2 separate regions of the Homo sapiens genome follow, and region 2 is linked to region 1. Evidence: fine-mapped expression QTL. A gene starts in region 1. The other region holds a variant in brackets. All regions are shown on one strand. Distances are from middle to middle.

The links. PIP is the estimated chance that this variant, and not a neighbour inherited with it, causes the effect. A credible set is the group of variants that fine-mapping cannot tell apart.
Region 2: its variant is the best candidate, but not a certain one, in a credible set for the expression of AGO4 in T cells (TOPMed, PIP 0.85).

The regions. Positions count from the first base shown.
Region 1 is chr1:35,804,707-35,810,079 of GRCh38, reverse strand. It overlaps AGO4 (argonaute RISC component 4), which reads right to left and starts at 2,064. Exons shown (of 18, transcript NM_017629.4): 1 at 1,645-2,064. The coding sequence starts at 1,663. It overlaps CLSPN-DT (CLSPN divergent transcript), which reads right to left. Exons shown (of 3, transcript NR_199050.1): 3 at 3,140-3,335. RefSeq lists enhancers at 1,012-1,291, 2,391-2,890, 5,308-5,357 and silencers at 1,442-1,691, 1,972-2,181.
Region 2 is chr1:35,857,658-35,863,030 of GRCh38, reverse strand. It overlaps AGO4 (argonaute RISC component 4), which reads right to left. Exons shown (of 18, transcript NM_017629.4): 18 at 5,141-5,373. Among named protein-coding and RNA genes, the nearest start is that of AGO1, 23 kb to the left of the region's middle. The variant A/G (reference allele first, on the strand shown) is at 2,436.

The DNA.
Region 1 (5,373 bases):
ACCACTAAGTCCTCAAACCTGCAAAAGCTAAAATCAAAACAAAAAAAAAAAAGAGTCCCTGGGCAGTGCCTAATATCACCAGGTTGATCCTTTCCATGAAATTCAGTTTATGCCCACAGTTACACAATTTCTTTCGATATCAGATCATAAATGCAACAGTTGTTTCAATTATGAATTACTAGGGGGAGGGAAGAAACATCTGTTGAGCATCTATAGGCACTAGTCTCTACAATAAGACTTATCATATACTCTCATTTCATTCTCTCAACAATCTTACAGAACATACTTATTATTACCCTCAATTTATAGACGAGAAAATGAAAGTTCAAAGGAATTGAGTAATTTTCCCAGGGTCATACAACTATTACATTACTAGATTGAATCTGTTACATTCCTAAAGACCTGAGCATGTCTTTAGCCAGGGGACATATCTGAAGTTAACCTGGCATAATACACTGAAGTTTATCAAACAATATTAATGCGGCAAGCCAATTTATTTTTAAAAGGCATATGAAATTTGATTATGAGGGCCTTTAAACAATACTTTAAGAAGCAAATTAGGGTGGGGCTTAATCACTCAGCTATGCAAACAAGTGCTAAGTAAACAAACGTGCCAAGTTTCCAAACTCAAATGGCAACTCGAATTTTCTACGCACTAAAAAGATGAAACACTCTACGACTAAGTTCATTATGTAGGTAAAGTTTGAATATTAAAGTGAATTCCACCACAGCCCCTAAACACTGAGCTACTTAGCCAAGGCATTAGAAACCTGTTGGGCTTTGAGGTGGAAGCACCAGGCCCCAATACTCAGGACACTTGTTACAGCCTGGAATGGTTCTTCTGGTTTGGATAGAGAGAAATAACCAGAGGCCATCCATATCCACAACAAATTAGTTTCCAAAGCACTTTCTCCTTCATTTGATCCTCACAACCACTCATAACCCAATTAGAAGAGAACTCAGGGCATTGAAGCCTGTGGTGGAGCAGACTGACTGGCAACTCCTGTGTCACTCAAAGGCTGGCTCAGACCACTCTGAGACTAACACACAGACTGAGTGACAGAGGCACAGGACCATGTTCTTTGGGACATCAGGGCCTTTCAGAAAGGGTGGGCATTTTGTCCCTTGACCTTCAGAGATCATGAGAGGTGTTTGGATGAAGTTCTTCTTCCTCATCTGAAGGCTCTGGACCATCTGCCAGTGCAAAGAAAAATAGGGGCGCGGCCCCAAACCAGGACTACCGGCTGGTAGTAGGCAGCGGGGCCCTTTTCCCGGTCTGGGCCAGGCCTCCGCGCGCACTGGGTAGCGGATCGCCCCCTTCTGAGGCCCAAACTACCCTCGTCGCGACCCCGGGCACATATCGTCTCCCCGAGGTGGGGCCAAGAGTGGCCTCCGCCCGGCAGCGCCGGTCACCTTCCCGAACCTCCCCCCTGGACCTCGGGATCCACCCAACGGCCGGCTGGGGCGCGGTCACCGCCCCCCAGGCCCGGGTCAGCTCCCTCCGCTTCGTGCTGCGGGGCTCGGGTCCCCTTCCCCGAGGCCTGGCGGCCCGAACCCGGCGAGGCGACGGGGCAGCGAAAGTCCCGGCCGCCCGCCCCGGGTCCCGGGTCCCGGGTCCCGCCCCGACCCGAGCTCGCTCCTCACCGGGTCCCAGCGCCTCCATGGCGGCGGCGGGGGCCGCCTCGCCCCGGTCCCCGGCGCCTCCCGCTCCGGGCCCCGCCGCCGCCGCCGCCGCCGCCGCGTAACGCTTGATCTCCGGAATATTGGCGCTGGGGTGGCGCCGCGGAGACGCGGGCGCTGGGCAGGGGGCGGCGGCGGCGCCCGGCCCGGGGACAGGGACCCGGCTCCGGCTCTTCCGGCCTCAGCGACAACAAAAACAATCCCCGCCGCCGCCGCCGCCGCCGCCGCCAACGGGAGCGGGAGCGGGAGCCAGCGCGCGCGCCCGCCGGGAGGGAAGGGGGCGCGGGGTGCGCGGACCCAGGGTCCCGGCGGGCGGAGGGGGCGTGCGCGGCCCCGGGCGCGGGGTCCACAGAGCCCGGCAGGCGGCGAGGCGGGTCGGGGAACGAGCGCGCGCCCGGAGGGTGCAGAGCCCGGTGGACGTGTCGGGCACGCGCCCGCTGGCCCGCTCTGCCCCGTCCACCCGAGGAGGCCGTCCGGTGGCCAACGGCTCTGGGGGCTACGTGCCATCCCCCCAGGGCGTCCTGCAAAAGATCTGGATTCCAGTTCCGCTGACCCACAGATTCAGTTTTCCACTTCTGTGAGTGGAAAGTGTACTGAGATTCACAGGAGCCACCTCGCCTCCCTCCTCCCTCCTCCCACCCCAGATCGCTTCTGTCATCTCGTCTTTTAGGGTCACCTTAGACGCTAGCAGTCCTCCTTCATCCCTTCATTCAGCACCACACACCCAACTGCGCGTCCCTCTCCGTATAGCCGGAAGGCACCACGGGAATGGACCCTGATGAATGATGCATTCCCTCCCTGGTCCCATGACAAGCGCCTCTGGTCAGCAAATCACCAGTCACTTTAGAAGAGAAAGGTCTTGGCCGGGCGTGGTGGCTCACGCCTGTAATACCAGCACTTTGGGAGGCGGAGGCGGGTGGATCACCTGGGGTCAGGAGTTTGAGACCATCCTGGCCAACATGGCGGAAGCCCATCTCTACTAAAAACACAAAAAATTAGCCGGGCGTGGAGGCAGGCGCCTGTAATCCCAGCTACTTGGGAGGCTGAGGCAGGAGAATCGCTTGAACCCGGGAGGCAGAGGTTTCAGTGAGCCGAAATCGGGCCACTGCACTCCAGCCTGGGCGACAGAGCAAGACTGTCTGAAAAAAAAAAAATAAAAATAAAAGAGAGAGAGAGAGAGAAAGGTCTTGCTTTCTTGGATGCCTTCCCCTTAGCAGACAAAAGCCAAGGGAGCAGCACCACCTCCAAGGCAGCATGGTCAGCCCAGCAGGCACAGCATCTTTAGGGCTTTCAGTAAGGACTTTGAGTGGGAGAACACTGGACAACAGGCCAAGAAGCAGTTTCTAGTCAGCAGAAGGAAGGAGCCCCTTGTCCACCAATTGAAAAGGTACGATGAGTTTGTGTGTGTGTGTTGTATTCCTTTGCTACGGCATAACGTAACAAAGTACCACAGACTGGGTGGCTTAAACAACAGAAATTTATTTTCTCACAATTCTGGAGGCTGGCAGTCAGAGATACGATGTAGGCAGGGTTGGTTCCTTCTGAGGCCTATCTCCTTCACTTGGTAGATAGTGGCCTTCTCCCAGTGACTTCACGTGGTCTTCCCTCTGTGCACGTCTGTGTCCAAATTTCCTCTTCTTATAAGGACAGCAGTCCTATTAGAGTAGGGCTCACTCTAGTGACCTCGTTTTAATTTAATTACCTCTTCAGAGACCCTGTTTCCAATTACAGTCACATCCTGGGGTGCTAGAGTTAGGACTTCAATATACAAATTATTGGGGTGGGGGATAATTTAGGCCCCTAGCATGTGTGGTGGGATATTCATTTGAGCACCTGCCATGTGCTGTCACAGAGCCAGGTAGTTTTTTTATGTAATGATAAAAAATATTAGCATCACATCCTGGCCATGCACTCTGCTATGGGCTTCTCATTGTCACTCAATCTTTACAACCACCAGTAAGGTAGATATTGTTAAGAAAGGTATTTGTACAGATGATGACACCGAAGCTCAGGGAAGTTAAGTAAGTCGGGCTTTGCATTACATGATGCTGAAGTGAAGCATGGGAAAAATTGGAGTTCAAATCTTGCATTTAAGTCCTGGCTAATTCTCTCCCTGATTGGCTATGGAACTAGGACTTTTATTTTTTTATTTTTTATTTTTTGAGACGGAGTCTCGCTCTGTCGCCCAGGCTGGAGTGCAGTGGCGCCATCTCGGCTCACTGCAAGCTCCGCCTCCCGGGTTCACGCCATTCTCCTGCCTCAGCCTCCCAAGTAGCTGGGACTACAGGCGCCCGCTACCACGCCCGGCTAAATTTTTTTTTGTATTTTTAGTAGAGACGGGGTTTCACCGTGTTAGCCAAAATGGTCTCGATCTCCTGACCTTGTGATCCGCCCGCCTCAGCCTCCCAAAGTGCTGGGATTACGAGCTTGAGCCACCGCGCCCGGCCGGAACTGGGACTTTTAATCTAGTGCCTACATTCTTGTCTACTGATACCATACCCTATATTCTTTTATTTTTTTTGACCCGGAGTCTCGCTCTGTCGCCCAGGCTTGGGTGCAGCAGCGCGATCTCGGCTCACTGCAAGCTCCGCCTCCCGGGTTCACATCATTTTCCTGCCTCAGCCTTCCGAGTAGCTGGGACTACAGGTGCCCGCCACCACGCCCGGCTAATTTTTTGTATTTGTAGTAGAGACGGGGTTTCACCATATTAGCCAGGATGGTCTCGATCTCCTGACCTCGTGATCCGCCCGCCTCGGCCTTCCAAACTGCTGGGATTACAGGCGTGAGCCACCATGCCCGGCCACCATACTCTATATTCTTTTCACAGCATCATGCTACCTCTCTGTTAAACCAGATAGTAACTGGAAATAGTAATAGGGGACAGAATGTTCAAAGGGGAGAAAGTATTTACTAAACGATCAGACTGCTGCACAGCTAAGAAAAGAAAAACCAACTAGAGTTGGCCGGGCGCGGTGGCTCACGCCTGTAATCCCAGCACTTTGGGAGGCCGAGGCAGGCGGATCATGAGGTCAGGAGATCGAGACCATCCTGTCTAACACAGTGAAACCCCGTCTCTACTACAAATACAAAAAATTAGCCGGGTGTGGTGGCGGGCGCCTGTAGTCCCAGCTACTCTGGAGACTGAGGCGGGAGAATGGCGTGAACCTGGGAGGCGGAGCTTGCAGTGAGCTGAGATCAGGCCACTGCACTCCAGCCTGGGCGACAGAGCGAGACTCCGTCTCAAAAAAAAAAAGAAAAAAAAAAGAAAAACCAACTAAAGTTCAAGTTTTTCACTTCACGCTAAGTTCCACCTACAGTTTAAACAATGCCGGTGTCTCCAATAGCCTGGTTTGTGGCTGACTCTCCCAACCCCACTTCCTAACAAAATTTCTCTATATTCTATTTGCTACCCTGAGCAGAGACCACAGCTTGTTCCCTGGACTGAAAATAGTTTTTCCACTAGCTTTAGAGGCTGAAGTATGAAATTTATTCACCCCATAGTTCCAGTTGGGACCGAAATGTCTCACTCAACAGAGTGATTCTTGATTACTCTGATCATCTACCTTCTCATTTCAAAACTCACTCTCACTCAAACACCCACTGTTCCTTTTCCAAAAACTATTCCTACAGAACCCTCCCAAACCAAATTTCTGTAGTCAATAAACTCCTCTAAACCTTGGCCTGCTCAGCAAG
Region 2 (5,373 bases), 53 kb before region 1:
ACAAGCAAAACTGCCTGCGGTGCGACAAATCAAGATAGTGTTGTTTTGCTTTTGTTCTTGTTTTTTTCATGCACAGCCTTGACCTCCCAGCTCAATCGATCCTTCCACCTCAGCCTCCAGAGTAGCTGAGACTACAGGTGTGCCTCACCATACCTGGCTAATTTTTTAATTTTTTTGTGGAGACAGGGTCTTGCCACGTTCCCCAGGTTGGTCTCAAATTCCTGAGCTCAAGGGATCCACCCACCTTGACTTTCCAAAGTGCTGGAATTACAGGCGTGAGCCACTGCATCCGGCCTTTTTGTTTGGTTGTTGTTGTTGTTGTTGTTTAATAGACAAGGTCTCACTCTGTTGCCCAGGCTCGAGTGCAGTGGCTATTCACAGGTGTCATCACAGTTCACTGCAGTGTTGACCTCCTGGCCTCAAGAGATCCTCCTACTTCAGCCTCCCAAGTAGCTGGGACTACAGACTTGTGCCATCACACCCAGGTCAAGACAGTGGATATGTTTGATTATGGTGATGCATATGTTCAAGCCCATTAAATTGTAACATTAAATATGTGCAGCTTTTCTATATCAATGACACCTCAAAAAACTGTTTTTAAAAAAGATAGTGGTTATCTTTGACCAGAATAGGTTCAGGTAGTGACTCAGAAGGGGTCCTGGAGGGCTTCTGTTTTTAAATCTGGGTGGAAGTTACATGGATGTCTTTGCTTTGTGACAAGTTGGGCTCCACACTTAAGGTCTGTATATTTTACTATATGTATACGTCAAAAAAGTTAGAAAAGGCAATAGTCTTCTCGCACTTTCCTCTTCTAGTTTTTTTCCACTTGTACATCAGATCTCATTCCCTCCAACTTCCTTCAGCTTTGCCCTCTATTGTGCGTCTTTTCTCTTTCCAGTATTTCCAATTCCTCCTGCTTTACTGACTCCTTCCCTAGTGTGTAAACGTGCTCAATCTCTCCCATTCTGAAAAACGAACCATTTCCCACCCCAGCTAATATCAGAATTCATTCTTTCCCTTTATATCCAACCTACCAACTATAGTACTATAGGTTCTTCAGATCTCTATAGTCAACCTTCTTCCTTCTCCAGCCACAGACATTGCTTTCACCAGGGTCACCTATAACTTCCTTGCTGCAAATTCCAATGGAAACTTTTCAGATTTTGTCTTTTTAGATCACTATTGGATAGTTAGCCACTTCCTTCTTTGTAGCTTATGTGTATGTGTTTCCAAGCCTTTACATGTATGATTGCATTTAATCCTTCCAACCCTGGATGTAAGTACTAGTACTATCTCCATTTTACGAATAAGAAAACTGAGGCTAAGAGAGGTTAACTTGCCCAGTGTCACACAGCTAACTCCTACATAGCCGATCCTGTACATACTTGATGAAATGCTCTTTTCCCTTGATTTCTAAGACAACTTGTTCTTTTTTATCCATTTGTCCATGGGGTTTGTTTGTTTGTTTGTTAGTTTTGTGAGACAGAGTCTCCCTCTGTTGCCCAGGCTGGAGTGCAGCAGCACAATCTTGGCTCACTGCAACCTCCACCTCCCGGGTTCAAGTGATTCTCCCGCCTCAGCCTCCTTAGTAGCTGGGATTACAGGCACCTGCCACCAAGCCCAGCTAATTTTTGTATTTTTAGTAGAGATGGGTTTTCACCATGTTGGTCAGGCTGGTCTTGAACTCCTGACCTCGTGATCTGCCCGTCTCGGACTCCCAAAGTGCTGGGATTACAGGCATGAGCCACTGCGCAGGGCCATCCATGTTTTATTTCCTTTAGACATCTCTCTCCTCTGTCTACCCTTTAAATATTTGTGTCCCCTTAGGACTGTCTGTTTTTCATCTCTTCTTGGCCTGCATGATCTTTCTGGGCACACATTTGAATGGTTTTAATTACCACCTATATATTTATGGCTTCCAATTTCTTTCTCCATTCCATAGGCATCAGCTCTCATCTCCAGCTTGTACAAAACTGAACTTACCACCTTCCTCCTTCCTAAAAATCTGCTTCTCCTCTGTTCATTCTCTCAGTGGCACTATTTTTTACCCAGCTGCCCAAGCCAGAAACCTGGGAGCCCTCCTAATGAGTCTGCCTCCTTCCCTCACTCTGTGTATCCATTTTGTCACCAAGTTCTGCTTTTTCTATTTTCTGACTACCTCGTGTTCGTTCCTTCTTTCAACGGCAGTATCATTGCTCAAATTCAAGCTTCATCATCTATTGCTTGGCTATTGCAATAAAACTTGAACTTCTCTTCAGCAGAACTTCAGCTTCAACCTACTCACAATACTGCTGGCAAAATTAACACAGATTAGAGTCTGTTATTCCCCTGTACCTATGTGATAAACTCTAAACTCCGTAAAATGCCATTTAACTTCTGTCCTGTCCTTTCAGAACTTGGTGCCTACCTTGGGTCCAATTCCTCCCTCATCCCCT[A/G]TAATCAAAAATTACTAAGATTACTTGTAATTCAAACATATCATGATCTTTTTTTTTTTAACTTCTGTCTTTCATTTTTGTTTCCTAGCATGCCATAGAAACTCCAGAAATGTTTGTTAAACTAAATTTATTTTCTTCCTTCTTCAATTTGTAATATAGTTGCTAGTTTTCTTCCAGCCCACCTACCCCTGATTTTGTCCTTCTCCTTAAAGATTTGCCACTGTCTGGGCATGGTGGCTCGCACCCTATAATCCCAGCTACTTGGGAAACTGAGGACGGGGGATCATTTGAGGCCAGGAGTTTGAGGCCAGCCTGGACAACATAGCATGATCTCATCTCTTTAAAAAATGTCAGCCTGGTGGCTCTATGGCTTAGTTGGTTAAAGCGCCTGTCTCGTAAAAAATGTCAGCCTGAGCAACATTTCTACAAATTATTATTTTTTTAATTAGCTGGGAATGGTGGCACACTCCTGTAGTCCCAGCTACTCAGGAGACTGAAGCAGGAGGATCGCTTGAGCCCAGGAGTTTGAGGTTCGGTAAGCTATGATAGCACCACTGCACCTTCAGCCTAGACAACAGAGCAAGACCCTGTCAAAAAAAAAAAAAAAAAAAAAAAAAAAAAGACTTGCCACTAGCTTCTGGAGAATAGTCAACACAGAAGAAATCAGAGGCAAGAGACAGAGAAAAAGAAAGAGAGAAACAAAACGGACACACGCCTTGTGATGGTGCTGATCAGTCTGTCATTCCCCTACTTACTGGCCACCGTCCCCCTAGGACGGTGGAGTGGGCCCACAAGCCATTCCTGACTGATGTAACACATCCCCGAGAAATTCAGGGATGGACATGAGTATGACACAAGTGGTGGGGGGTGAGGTGGGAATAAGGCCATTTGGACACACGTGAATCATACGAAATAATGAGGGTTCTGGCTGGGTGCGGTGGCTCATGCCTGTAATCCCAGCACATAGGGAGACTGAGGTGGGTGGATCACCTGAGGTCAGGAGTTGGAGACCAGCCTGGCCAACATGGTGAAACCCCGTCTCTACTAAAAATACAAAAATTAGCTGGGTGTGGTGGCACACACCTGTAATCCCAGCCACTTGGGAGGCTGAGACAGGAGAATCGCTTGAACCTGGGGAGGCGGAGGTTGCAGTGAGCCAAAATTTCGCCATTGCACTCTAGCCTGGGTGACAGAGTGAGATTCCATCTCAATAATAATAATAATAACAACAACAAATTTTCTATAATAAAGAGGGATCCTATCTCCCAAAGAAGGAGTAAGGGAAAGCATTTGACCCAGCCTATCAGTCACTTTTTATTGATATCTTTATCCCAGCAACACTGTTTTTTTCTATTTTCCAACTACCCCATGGTTTCTGACTATAAAATGACTAATCAATAACAAGATCTTTCCTTTAATTTTACAAGGAAAAATTCTTGGAGTTGAAGCAGTATTGATACAATGCCCAGCAACACTCTGTTCCTGGGATAAAGATATCAATAGAAAGTGACTGACAGACCTGGTGCGGTGGCTCACAGCTATAATCTCAGCATTTTGAGAGGTCAAGGCGGGAGGATCGCTTGAGCTCAGGAGTTTGAGACCAGCCTGGGCAACATGGCAAAACACCATCTCTACAAAAAAATACAAAAATTAGCAGGGCATGGTGATGCGCACCTCCTGTAGTCCCTGCTACTCAGCAGGCTGAGGTGGCAGGATTGCTTGAGCCTGGGAGGTCAAGGCTGCAGGGAGCTATGATTGTGCTACTGCACTCCAGCCTGGGTGACAGAGTGAGACCCTGTGTTTAAAAAATAATAATAAAATAAAAAAAATAGGCCGGGCATGGTGGCTCACGCCTATAATCCCAGCACTTTGGGACGCCAAGATGGGCGGATCATGAGGTCAGGAAATTGAGACCACCCTGGCTAACACGGTGAAACCCCAAATCTACTAAAAATACAAAAAATTAGCCGGGCGTGGTGGTGGGCCCCTGTAGTCCCAGCTACCAGGGAGGCTGAAGCAGGAGAATGGCGTGAACCCAGGAGGAGGAGCTTGCAGTGAGCCGAGATTGCGCCACTGCACCTGGGCGACAGAGCAAGACTCCGTCTCAAAAATAAATAAATAAATAAATAAATAAATAAATAAATAAATAAATATAGTGACTGACATATAGTAGGCACTCAGTGTTAATCTCGCTGCCTCTTCCTCCATCTCATGCCAAATTAGAATGAATTCTTTGAATAATTTTTTACTCTTCTGTGTTCCCAGCACCTAGGCAGTACATGGCATGTACCCAGTTCATGATAAATGTTTGATAACTGATAAATATGGTGGAGATAGTATACAGATGGAAAAAACAACCGCCTTCTAGTAGAGTTATATGCAGAACTTTCTCCTCTGGCAAACTATAAATTCCCTAAGGAATTGTCCCTGCCATGACTTAGCAAAAGGACTTGCTGGTGAGAATTTTTCTAAAGATGAGACTGGATAGCCCCAGGTTGGATGAATTTGAGCAGCTTCTCCTCTGGAGAAGTTAAGTCTTATAAAGTGTGTGGCCACACTGCCCTCTGGAGACTGCAGATTCTTCTCAAGCATTGCTTAAATAGATCTTCCCATTAAGAGCCATATCCAGAACTCTGATCAATTTTGTAAAAGTTTTCATAAGTGAAGTGTTGCTGAAAAGCTCTTCTAAAATTCTCAAATAGAAATTTCTTTTTTAAAAGTTTTATTTTAGTTTTAATTGACACATAATAATTGTATACCAAATAGCAATTTTTAAAAATAGGGAGACCCAAGAGTTAAAAACACAAAGTTTTTCCACTGTTCTTTGTAAAATTTCTCATACTGAGGAAACTGTTTTTATAAAGCAACCATGTATGTTGCCATTACAGTGTACTGCATACTTATTAGACAATTGACAGGAAAAACAACTTTTGGCACA